Homo sapiens: one gene and its partners. The protein of the gene in region 2 interacts with the protein of the main gene of each other region in a biochemical or structural test. Each region holds a gene or a part of one and is shown on either strand. Other genes may lie near its edges.

Evidence for each region.
Region 1: the proteins of TGFB1 (region 2) and VASN form a complex in vitro, tested with the Homo sapiens proteins (one study listed by BioGRID).
Region 3: the proteins of TGFB1 (region 2) and DCN form a complex in vitro, tested with the Homo sapiens proteins (3 studies listed by BioGRID).

Annotation. Positions count from the first base shown.
Region 1 is NC_000016.10:4,370,316-4,374,064, reverse strand, and holds the start of VASN (vasorin precursor), read right to left. Parts: upstream 2,218-3,749; 5' UTR 2,072-2,217; intron 1-2,071. UniProt on the Homo sapiens protein: May act as an inhibitor of TGF-beta signaling.
Region 2 is NC_000019.10:41,347,174-41,350,922, forward strand, and holds part of TGFB1 (transforming growth factor beta-1 proprotein preproprotein), read right to left. Parts: intron 1,283-3,749; coding exon 1,122-1,282; intron 1-1,121. UniProt on the Homo sapiens protein: Transforming growth factor beta-1 proprotein: Precursor of the Latency-associated peptide (LAP) and Transforming growth factor beta-1 (TGF-beta-1) chains, which constitute the regulatory and active subunit of TGF-beta-1, respectively.
Region 3 is NC_000012.12:91,176,144-91,179,892, reverse strand, and holds part of DCN (decorin isoform a preproprotein), read left to right. Parts: intron 1-413; exon of another isoform or gene 414-531; intron 532-1,246; exon of another isoform or gene 1,247-1,307; 5' UTR 1,308-1,340; coding exon 1,341-1,551; intron 1,552-3,749. UniProt on the Homo sapiens protein: May affect the rate of fibrils formation.

The DNA of each region.
Region 1 (3,749 bases), on a different chromosome or scaffold from region 2:
GAACTCACGCAAATTCCACAGCAGTGAGGGGAGCTGGTTTTCTTGGCAGCACAGAGCCTTGGGCTCCCCAGCCCAGGGAGGGGACTCTAAGGGCAGCTGATGGGGGGTCCAGGAGAGGTCACTAACAGAGTTAGGTGGCCTTGCTGCCCTCCCATGAGCTCAGGGCTGGCCAGTGGTCAGGGATAGCCATCCCTGTGGGCAGCCTCCCCTCTACACACCTCTGCTCACTGGCAGGACTGGCTGTCTGGCCTGCTGAGGTGGGAGCTCCCTCCTGGGCTCAGCAGGGCCCTGCTTTCTTGTTCCCAGAGGCTGCCCAGTGTTGTGTTGGGACCCACTTATAAGCCCAGGCAAGGACTTAATTTTCTGTACTTGGGACTTGTCCCAGCTCCCCCGGGGCTGTCAGTGGGGGTGACAGTAATGGGAGCTAGGAGCCGCGGACCCATCTCCTGCCCGGGGCATCTCCCTTGCCATCTCCCTGGCCCCTGGGCTGCGTGCCAGAGGGGCCTTCCTCGGGTAAGCACAGGTCTGGGCAGTGTCTGAGAGGCTCCTTATGCTGAATCCCATTCTCCCATTCCCAGAATATGGAGAGAGAGGTGCCATCTGGACAAATGCCCTGGGACCCCAGCCCCCAGCCCCATCCCCATCTGACCCTCCGGACCCACAGGTAGCAGGACAGCTGTTCCAACGTGCAGGAGACAGGGGCGGGGTGGGGACAGGCAGTGCCCGGCCCCCAGGCTGGCATGTGTGTGCGCATCCTCCCTCCCCAGGCCCAGGGGAGGCTAGATAATGGTCTGGAGGGGATCCAGCTGGGCTGCTCATCACCAGAGCCTCTTCCTGCCTCTGACACTCTGTTTACAGAAGCTCCAGGCCAACTCCCCTGGGAGAAGAGAGTAAACTCAGGGGACTGCTCCCCATCCCCCACCCGCCTGCCCCAGCTCTGTTGGGTTTTTGTCAATAGCTGGGCCCATCCTGGACTTTGCTGCCCCCTGGACTGGCCCTAATGGACCCTGCTTGGAAGGTCCCAGCCCGGCCACCCCTCTATGCCCTCAACACCCAAAGTACAGTCTAGTGTGAAGGGACCTTGGAGATTTTATCCAATCCCCAGCCCTGGAGGCTCTCAGCCTGGGGAAGGGGGCTCTAGGTCCCGCTGCCTCTCTCCAGAGCCTCACCTGTCCTTGGTGCAAAAGGCAGGCATGGGGACACCTAGACCCCCAGGACCTCTTCCTTCCACCCTGCACACTCCACCCCTGGGCCACAGCAGGGGAGGCGGTCAGTGACCCTGGTGTGGCAATCGTTAACGAATGGGGGAGAGGCAGAATGGTTGGCACCAATCGGCTGGCCTGCCAGTGACCACAGGGGACCTCAGCAGTCCTCAGGCCCCAGCACTGCCAGCCCAGGGACACAAAGGACTAGGCTGGCTCCAGGCCACTGGGTTTGCAGCCCAAGCAAAGCCCCTTCCCTGGCAGAGGCAGAGACCCGGCACCCTGCCTGATACCCGAAGCTCTAAGGGCCCTGGCCAGTACAGGTCCATCCCCCACCTGGAGGGATGGGCATCGGACGCCCACCAGCCACTCCCCGCCCCTCCCTAGGGCTGCATATCTGTAGCCCCCAGCTGTGCTTTGAGTGACAAGGGTCCAGAGGACCCCGGGCAGCCCTTCTGCACAGCAGCACCTACTGCCGGACCCCAGGAGGGAAAAGTGACCCAAGCCTGTGGCTTGGCTATCCCCCTCAAAGGGGTTTGATTCATAAAACTGGTCATGCCGGAGGCCCAGCCGTGGGAGGAGGAAGCATGGGACGGGGTGTTTATTTTGTCTGCTTGCAGCCTCGCGGGCTCACCGCACACTCAGGCGCGCACCCTGGCCGGCCGCGGGGCTGTCGGCGCCCCAGGACGGCGGGGGAGGGAGCGTACAGGGCCTGCCCGCCGGGCGGCCCAGGTGACCGTGTGGGGCTGGGGCCGCGGTCCCGCCCGAGAGTGCGTGTGTGCGCGCGGCGGCGGTCCCCGCGCGTGTGCACAGCCTGGCCGTGGCGCCCCCTTCCCCGCCCGCAGCCCCCCAGCCCCACAGAAACTCACCGGGAGGCGGCGGCGGCGCAGGGAGCCGGGCGGGGCAGGCCGCGGCCTCAGTCTTTCCTGGCGGGTCGGGCCCGAGGGGGTCCTGGGTCCCGAAGCAACTGCGTTCGAGTCCGCGTCCACCCGCCCCGGGCTCGGGCTCCGGAGTCGGCTCGCTGGAGGCAGGTCGCGCCTTAAGAGTCCCGGGGGGCGGGCCCGCCGCGGCAGGGGCGGGGCCTCTCCCCATTGGCCGGGGCGGAGCCGCGTGGAGACACGCCCCTTCCCCACCGAGGGGCTCGTGGGCCGGGTTGCCCTGGCCCTCACCCTGCGGCCACCTGACCTGCGCGGGGAGACCTTGCCCGTCGTGGGTTTGCCGGATGACACTGGGCAGGTTTCTGCTTTTTGTGTAAAAAGCGAGAGACTATTTAGGAATCCTAAGCGTCACAGCCCAGATGCCTATGAGGCACCAGGCAGGTGACAAATGCCAGAAGTCCACCCCAGGGCCTCTGCGGCCCTGGAGAGGCAGGATGGCGGGAGTGGGGCTGGTAAGGGCTGAGTCCTCATGACCAGCCCGGGCCAGCTAGAGCTTTGGATTTTTGAAGAGAAACTGGAAATCCAGATTTTTAGGTGAAATCTCTCAATGTGTTATTGTTGGTAGCTAATCCCAATTTCAAAAAACTCCTGGCAGCCCACACAAAGCCCTTTCAAGAGCCTCCTAAGTATAAACTCCAATGCCAAATCTGAGCTCAGGGTCCTCTTAGCCACGACAGCCTTAAGAGTTGTGAGCAGCCCTGGACTCTCTTCCCCACCATATTATGAGATGAAGGGGCTGTGTCAGGGAGGGCAGTGGTGGTCTGCCCACGGCCCCACAGTTACTGGCAGCTTCAAGCCTGAGCTGTGGAGGCATAGGGGTGGTCACCGTCGGTGGGTGGGGCCTGGGCTGCAGTTGACAGTGGCCCTTGATTGGGCAGGAGGGGCGGGTGCCAGGGGCCGGACTAGTCCAGAAAAATCCCCTGCCTTGGAGGATTCCAGGAAAACACTCTGCCCTCCTCCCCCTCCGCGTTTGTGGTCAGTCATGCCTCAGAGCCTTTGGGGGCCCAGCTCAGCTCCTGACTTCCGGAGAGCCTTGGGACACCCACACCCCCTCCAGCCCGGCCTGTAGCCAAGGCCCTTGGCTGGGCTAGCTCTAGTCTTTGGGGGGCCTGAAGGCTTATCCCTGGGAGGCTGGGCCACACCAGCTGGAGGGTTTCCTAGTCTCTGGAGGACTCAGTTATCTCCAGAAGGCAGGATGGCCTCTGTGTCTAGCCGTCAAGGGCTAAGCAGGGCCTGGCTGGGACAGTCACCTTCTGGACCTCCCGTCCACAGGGCCCTCTCCCCACAGGGCCCCTTTCCAGGGCTGGCAGGGCTCCACAACCCATACGTTTCTCGGTCTACATGGATTAGGGCATGGCTTGCGGACCTCTGTTCCTGGGTTGGGGCTGGCCTTTGGGTGCATTTAGTGCAGGCTTTATGGGAGTTTTTACAACTTTGAAGGCACTGCTAACATTGAAAAATCAGGTGGTTTCATATTAAAATGGGGCTTCCCAGCTTGCATTGAACAGGAACTCTCAGCTGGGGCTGAGTGGCGGTTGCTCCCTCTGCCAAAATGTGGGCTCATGGGTCACCCCAGTCCCCACCACTCCCTGCTGCCTCCTGCCAAGCT
Region 2 (3,749 bases):
CACCATAACAGGCTAATTTTAGTATTTTTTGTAGAGACGAAGTTTCAACATGTTGCCCAGACTGGTCTCGGACTCCTGGGCTCAAGCAATCTGCCTGCCTCGGCTTCCCAAAGTTCTGGGATTAGAGGTGTGAGCCACTATGCCTGGCCCTAAATTTTTAATTTAATTTTAAACAATTTAAATTTTAATCAAGCTAAATGTGACTAGTGGCTGTCATATTGGACAGAATGATTCTAGAGCCCCCAACCTTTTCAGAGATTCCAACTTTCAAGAATCCTGTGTCCTTAAAGAGTCCAACTCCTAAGATTCCAGCCTTCTAAGTGTTTAACATCCTAGGATGCAAAGAGTCTGAACATTTAAAAGTGCTCTAGGTTCCGGGTGCAGTGGCTCACACCTGTAATCCCAGCACTCTGGGAGGCTCAGGTAGGAGAATCACTTGAGGGCAGGAGTTTGAGACAAGCCTGGCCAACATGATAAAACTCTGTCTCTACTAAAAATACAAAAATTAGCCCAGCGTGTTGGCACATGCCTGTAATCCCAGCTACTCGGGTGGCTGAGGCAGGAGAATCACTTGAACCCAGGAGGCGGAGGTTGCAGTGAGCCGAGATCACCCCATTGTACTCCAGCCTGGGCGACAGAGCAAGACTCCATCTCAAAAAAAAAAAAAAAAAAAAAAGAGGCCAGGCGCAGTGGCTCACGCCTGTAATCTGAGCACTTTGGGAGACCGAGGCAGGTGGATCACGAGGTCAGGAGATCGAGACCATCCTGGCCAACATGGTAAAACCCCATCTCTACCAAAAATACAAAAATTAGCTGGGCGTGGTGGCGCACACCTGTAATCCCAGCTACTTGGGAGGCTGAGGCAGGAGAATCACTGGAACCCAGGAGGCGGAGATTGCAGTGAGCTGAGGTCATACCACTGCACTCCAGCTTGGCAACAGAGTGAGACACTGTCTCAAAAAAAAAAAAAAAGCGTTCTAGGATTGTATGGTTTGTGTTCTTCTATCCTTCAGGGACCATCTAGGTGGACCTTGTAACCAGCCGACCCACAGCCACCCCCTTGGTCACAGCTCACCCTCTCCAGCCCATGCCCTGACCTTCCTTCTGGCTCATGTCCTCACCTGGTACAGCTCCACGTGCTGCTCCACTTTTAACTTGAGCCTCAGCAGACGCAGCTCTGCCCGGGAGAGCAACACGGGTTCAGGTACCGCTTCTCGGAGCTCTGATGTGTTGAAGAACATATATATGCTGTGTGTACTCTGCTTGAACTTGTCATAGATTTCTAGCAGGGAGAAATGAAGGGAGGCGATCAGGGGTTTGGCAGAGGTGAGGGGAGCTGGTGCTCCCAACTCTAGGAGTTTTGGAGCTGACAGCTCTGGGGTGGAGTCAGTCTCTGATACCTTTTATTTATTTATTTATTTATTTATTTATTTATTTATTTATTTAAATGAATTTTTTTTTTTTTTTGAGACGGAGACTCGCTCTGTCACCCAGGCTTGGAGTGCAGTGGCGCAATCTCTGCTCACTGCAACCTCCGCCTCCAGGGTTCAAGCAATTCTCCTGCCTCAGCCTCCCGAGCAGCTGGGACTAAAGGCTCATGCCACCATGCCCAGCTAATTTTTGTATTTTTAGTAGAGATGGGGTTTCACCATGTTGGCCAGGATGGTCTCGATCTCCTGACCTCGTGATCCACCCGCCTCGGCCTCCCAAAGTGCTGGGATTACAGGTGTGAGCCACCACGCCCAGCCCTGACTGTGATACTTTTTAGCTGTGTGACCTTGAGGAAGTGGTTTCTCCCCCTAGGTTTGTTTCCTCCTCTGTAAAATAGGTCCTAACCACATTCCTCTCTCATGTAGCATCATCTCTCAAGTCGACTAAGGCTGGCACCAAGGGGAACCACTCTGTTTGCTCTGGCCTTCCTTGCCCCAAATGCAAGAGCCCCTAAAATGCAGAGTAAGGATCAAAGGCACAGGCTTTGGACTCAGATAGTGCCTCTGCTGCCTCTTGGCTGTGTGACCATGGGCAGTTAACACCCTCTTTCTGAATGTCAGTTTCCTGTTATTCTTTGAAAAACAGCAATAACATTAAGCTCCCTGCATTCCCACACAGACTCTCCTAATTTAAGCGCTGTGTAACCTTGGGCAAGTGAATTCCTCTCTCTGAGCCAGGTGTAAGACAAGACAGAGTGACTCTAGAACCCATTCCAGTATTATAGTGGGAAATTAGATGACCCAGGTCAAGCCATGTGGCACCAATTCTGCATACACTGGTCACTCAATCATGTATACGTCTAAGAGTGCTGGCTGGGCGCAGTGGCTCACGCCTGTAATCCCAGCACTTTGGGAGGCCGAGGTGGATTGATTACTTGAGGTCGGGAGTTCGAGACCAGCCTGGCCAACATGGTGAAACCCCGTTTCTACTAAAAATACAAAAATTGGCCAGGCATGGTGCCGGACGGCTCTAATCCCAGCTACTTGGGAGGTTGAGGCATGAGAATCGCTTGAACCTGAGAGGCAGAGGTTATAGTGTGCCGAGATTGCGCCACTGCACTCCAGCCTGGGTGACAGAGTAAGACTCTGTCTCAAAAACAACAACAACAAAAAACCACAAAACAGCGCTATTTACCAGATGCTATCTAAAGCACTTTACAAAGATGAAGACATTTAAACCTCACAACCTTATACTATTATTATACCCGTTTAATAGATGAGAAACTGAGGCACCGAGATTAAGTAATTTGCCCCAAGGTCACATAGCTGCAGACTGGGATTCAAACTCAAGCTGTCTCATTCCAGAGACTGTGCTTTTTTTTTTTCTTCCCCCAAGAGACAGGGTCTCACTCTGTCCCCCAGACGGAAGTGCAGTAGCACAACCATGGCTCACGGCAGGCTGGAACTCCTGGGCTCAAGGGATCCTCACGCCTCAGCCTCCCAATATGTTGAGATCACAGGCATGAGCCACCACACCCACCCAGCTAGAGACTGTGCTCTTAACCCCTAAGTGATTCTTCTACTTATTTTTATTATTAGTTTTCCACCCTTAACTCCCTTCCCCAGCTGGTTAGGGAAAGTGAAGTTCATTCTGGGTAGGAATGGCTGTAGTGGGGAGAAAAGGAATTAAGGTGTTTTCTTTTCTTTTTTTTTTTTTTTTTTTGAGATGGAGTTTCTGTCGCCCAGGCTGGAGTGCAGTGGCGCGATCTTGGCTCATAGCAACCTCTGCCTCCCAGGTTCAAGCGATTCTCCTGCCTCAGCCTCCCAAGTAGCTGGGATTACAGGCGCCGCCCGCCACCCCGCCCAGCTAATTTTTGTATTTTTAGTAGAGACCGGGTTTCACCATGTTGGCCAGGCTGGTCTCCAACTCCTGACCTCAGGTGGTCCACCCACCTTGGCCTCCCAAAGTGCTGGGATTACAGGCGTGAGCCACCGCGCCCAGCCAAGGTATTTTCTAGTTTAGGAAAAGTTTGGGGATGGGGATGAGGGAACAGGCCATGAACTGCTGGATCAACTGGGGCAACTGCTTCCAGCCTCCCATAGTGGGGGTGTGAAAAGAGACTGGTGAGAAAGGCAGAGGAAACCCCTCCCCTACGGCCCCCTTCGATCCTCCTCCTCCTCCCCAGTCTCCCTCCCCACCCAGCCCCAGTAAGCCCTATTCTTGGCCCGGAGGTTACTCAGCAAACCCCAAAGGAAAGGCAGAGCCTTGGCTGGGGAAGACAGATAGGGAGGAAGACAGAGAGGAGGGAGAGGAAGGGT
Region 3 (3,749 bases), on a different chromosome or scaffold from region 2:
AAATGAGATCATATATACATCACATAAAAATCAGAATTTTCCATATGTGTTTATTAGCTTATTAAACATAATGTTTGAGAAACTAGGAAATTGATTTATTTTTTAAAGCCGATCTTGCTTATACCAAGTTGAGGTTTTCAATCTGCTTTTTTTATATCAGAAATTCGATACTGAAAAAAAGCTAATTTTGTGTTTTAAAAAATCAGACTGATTGCTTGGAACAAATGGAATAAATCGTCTTGTCAATAAAGTGATGGTCAATTGAGTCATTTGTGTGCAAAATATTGTGCAAGGCCCGGGTACAGAACAAGGAATAATAAGACACGCCCTGAAGGAGTACATCGTCTAGTGAGGGACAGACCAAGCACGCAAAACAAATTGCAATATAATGTGATAAGTTCTTTAAAAGAGGTAAGAGCAACGTGCTTTGGGAGCAGAGAAGAGGGAGAAAGCAGCATCTTGCCTGGATGAGCCAGGGGACACAGAAGAGAAGCCCACTATCTCATTTAATCTTTACAACTCTCTTGCAAGGTCGGTATTCTACATGGCAAGTAGCTTTGATTGTCAGGGTTCAGGTGAGGACTGGGAATGGAGTGACAATGAAAAGGAATGTGGCTAGAGCTATTAATTCATACCAATTTATGAGTGGTCTGACATACAGCACAGGGACTGTGGACAGTATTGATAAGCCATAGGAAGTTAATAAATGGTTTATAGTAGAAATTAATAAGACAAAATTGAATTTTTAGACGATGACTCAGGCAGCAAAATGGAAGATGGACTGAAATAGAGGAAATATGCAAGGCAGAGATGAATTAGAAGCTCTTGTAGTAGTTTAGGGAGAGATGAGAAGGGCCTGGATCAAAATAATTGTGGTAGGATGGAGAGATGTGACTGGCTTCCAGAGATATTTCTGAAGCAGAAATTGGAGATCTCCTATGTGGATAGAGATAATTTTATCTGACCATGTGTTAAGTGAGCATTGAAAAGCCCAACATGATTTATTACCATGACAATTTTGCAAATGATTTGGATATATAGTATATCATCTTAGTTTAGACCCAAAATTCAAACAAGCAGATTTAAATAATACTCAGATTTCTCATCCTAAGTAAATAGCTGTGCAAATGATACTATAATGTACCTGATTGTCTTTCAATACATTTTTAATGCTCTGCTTCCTGATAACAAATGAAATATTATTTTGCATCTTTTCTCTGTGCTCACTGTATTGTGGCATATTATATAAGAAACGACACACAGATTAGGCAGTGCTACTCTTCTTAAATCTCTCATTTGTTTCCTAGGTTCCCTGGTTGTGAAAATACATGAGATAAATCATGAAGGCCACTATCATCCTCCTTCTGCTTGCACAAGTTTCCTGGGCTGGACCGTTTCAACAGAGAGGCTTATTTGACTTTATGCTAGAAGATGAGGCTTCTGGGATAGGCCCAGAAGTTCCTGATGACCGCGACTTCGAGCCCTCCCTAGGCCCAGTGTGCCCCTTCCGCTGTCAATGCCATCTTCGAGTGGTCCAGTGTTCTGATTTGGGTGAGTGGGATGCAGTTTCTCTTTACCTACCTTACTTGTTTTATTCTTGGGAATGGCAACTCTGAGAGTTTAGCATTTTCAGTTTTAATCTCTCTAAATTTGAGAGACAGTGCCACCTAATGAGGAGTAAAGGAAGCAGAACAGGATAGAAAGAAAAGTAGCGTTGTTGTTCTCTCTTTCTCTCTCTCTCTCCCTCTCTGTCCCTCTTCCTTTTTTCCTCCATTACTTTGCAATCTTGGACAAATCATTTTTAAAAATATTTCTGAGCTTTATATCCCTTCTTCTACAAAATAAAATTTTGAATTAAAAAAGTCTTATGTTCTAAAATTTCAGAGTAATGGTTTAATCTTAATTCTATAATATGCTTTTATAAAATATTAGATATTAAGAAAATCAGGTCAGTCTCTCTACTATTCACTTAGCCCAGACAACAGAGTTTCAACATTACTAAATTGTAAAATAATCAGTTATCAAAAGCAAAACACATCAAATTTTATGACAAAATCTTATCTTTCAAGTATCAAAATACTCCCTTAATCTCTGAGTCTTAGTTTTGTCTTTACTTTTGACATTTTGTAATCCAGCTGCTTATATTCTTTAGAAAGTTTCAAAGGAAATATTTATCACTAAGGTATGGTGTAAATATTCAATATAATTGTGTTACATATATCTTTAGCCTAACACCCTAAAGACAGTTTGATTTATCATCTTTTCAGAAAAATTTGGTCTGGAAATTCCAAGAGCATTACACTTAGAAGATAAATCTCCAGAAAGATTGAAGCTCAGTGGATGGGCCAAAGGGGAATGAACTCAGTTTACATGGCAGCTCATTCACATTCCTCCTTTTGAAGGGGTGTATTTTCTTACTGGAGATGAAAAGAAAAAAAAATCTTTATATCATGATTCCGCCATGTGTACTTCCTTCTGGAAGAAATTCCATACTATGATCAGGCACTTCTTTCAGAAGTCCTATATTTACTCAGAACATGCTTTCTAGCAGTAGTTTGCAGAAGAAAAATGCAACTTCTACAATTGGAATAAACTGCCTATAGGAACCCAGAAAAAATATAAAGTATATTCAGTAGTAACGACTGAAAAACACTTGAAATAGCTTCTTCAACACATATATTGTATAGCTATTTAAAACCCAAATACAAATGTTATATGAAGACTTTCAAAAGGCCGCAGGATAATTCCAATGGATCTATTTGTTCAGTCATTCAGAAGCTATATCGGGAACCCATCATGGATGAGCTCTGCTCTAGGCATGGGGAGAAAGGATGAGGAAGACAAATATGGCCCTAGTTCTTGTGGATCTTATGTTCTAGTGGTGGTGACTATTACTTTTTGAATTGTGTATTTGCCACAGGGGAGATTGGATTACTCTTCAGAAATTTTATAAGCATCTAGAGATGACCTGCATTATTGCCTTGGGCAGGAAAATAACAGGGTTGAAAAAAATCTGAACAAAGAAATCACCATTTGATGGATATACACAGGATAATCTTTTCTGAAGTTACTAAAATGGCGAAGTTCCCAAAAAATGTAATGCGAATTAAATTTCACTTTGCCTCTGAGAAAAAGTTAAAAGAATTTATTATTACTCTCGCTACATGTATTATCAAAAATGAAGGGTTGATATTTTTAAGGAAAGAAGAGTTGGCCAGTCACTTTAGTGAAGTTTTATTTTTTCGTAAATATAGTTTGCCTTTGCTTCCATGAAAAAATAGCTCATAAACCTTGACCCTGATGAAAGCACTGGGCCAGTTTTCCAATTCTCTGTTATGTAAAAAGGCATAAGTCAATTGTTCAAAGTGAAACAACAACAACAACAACAAAATGTAGTCTTAGGAAGCAGCAAGTTCACTGACTTGGGATCTTTATGACAGTTTTGTTGTTGCCATTGATATTGTTTTGTTTATTTTTTGTTTTCAGATGAGAAAGTTTTCTACATGTTATCTTTTTTCTAGGAGCTCAAAGTGTACATCATTCCTTTATTATAGCTAGGTTTACTGACTCATATACTAAGGAAGTAGCTAAAATTATAAAAATAATTTGTTTTTAAAACCATATTTAACTAAGGGAACTAAGTAAGTTCCAATGAGCAGTGGTCTCATGCAAGGTATTTTCAATATTTTAAAATTTACAGATGAATATTTAAATATATTATAAAAGTTTTAATCAGCTATCTCTAAGAA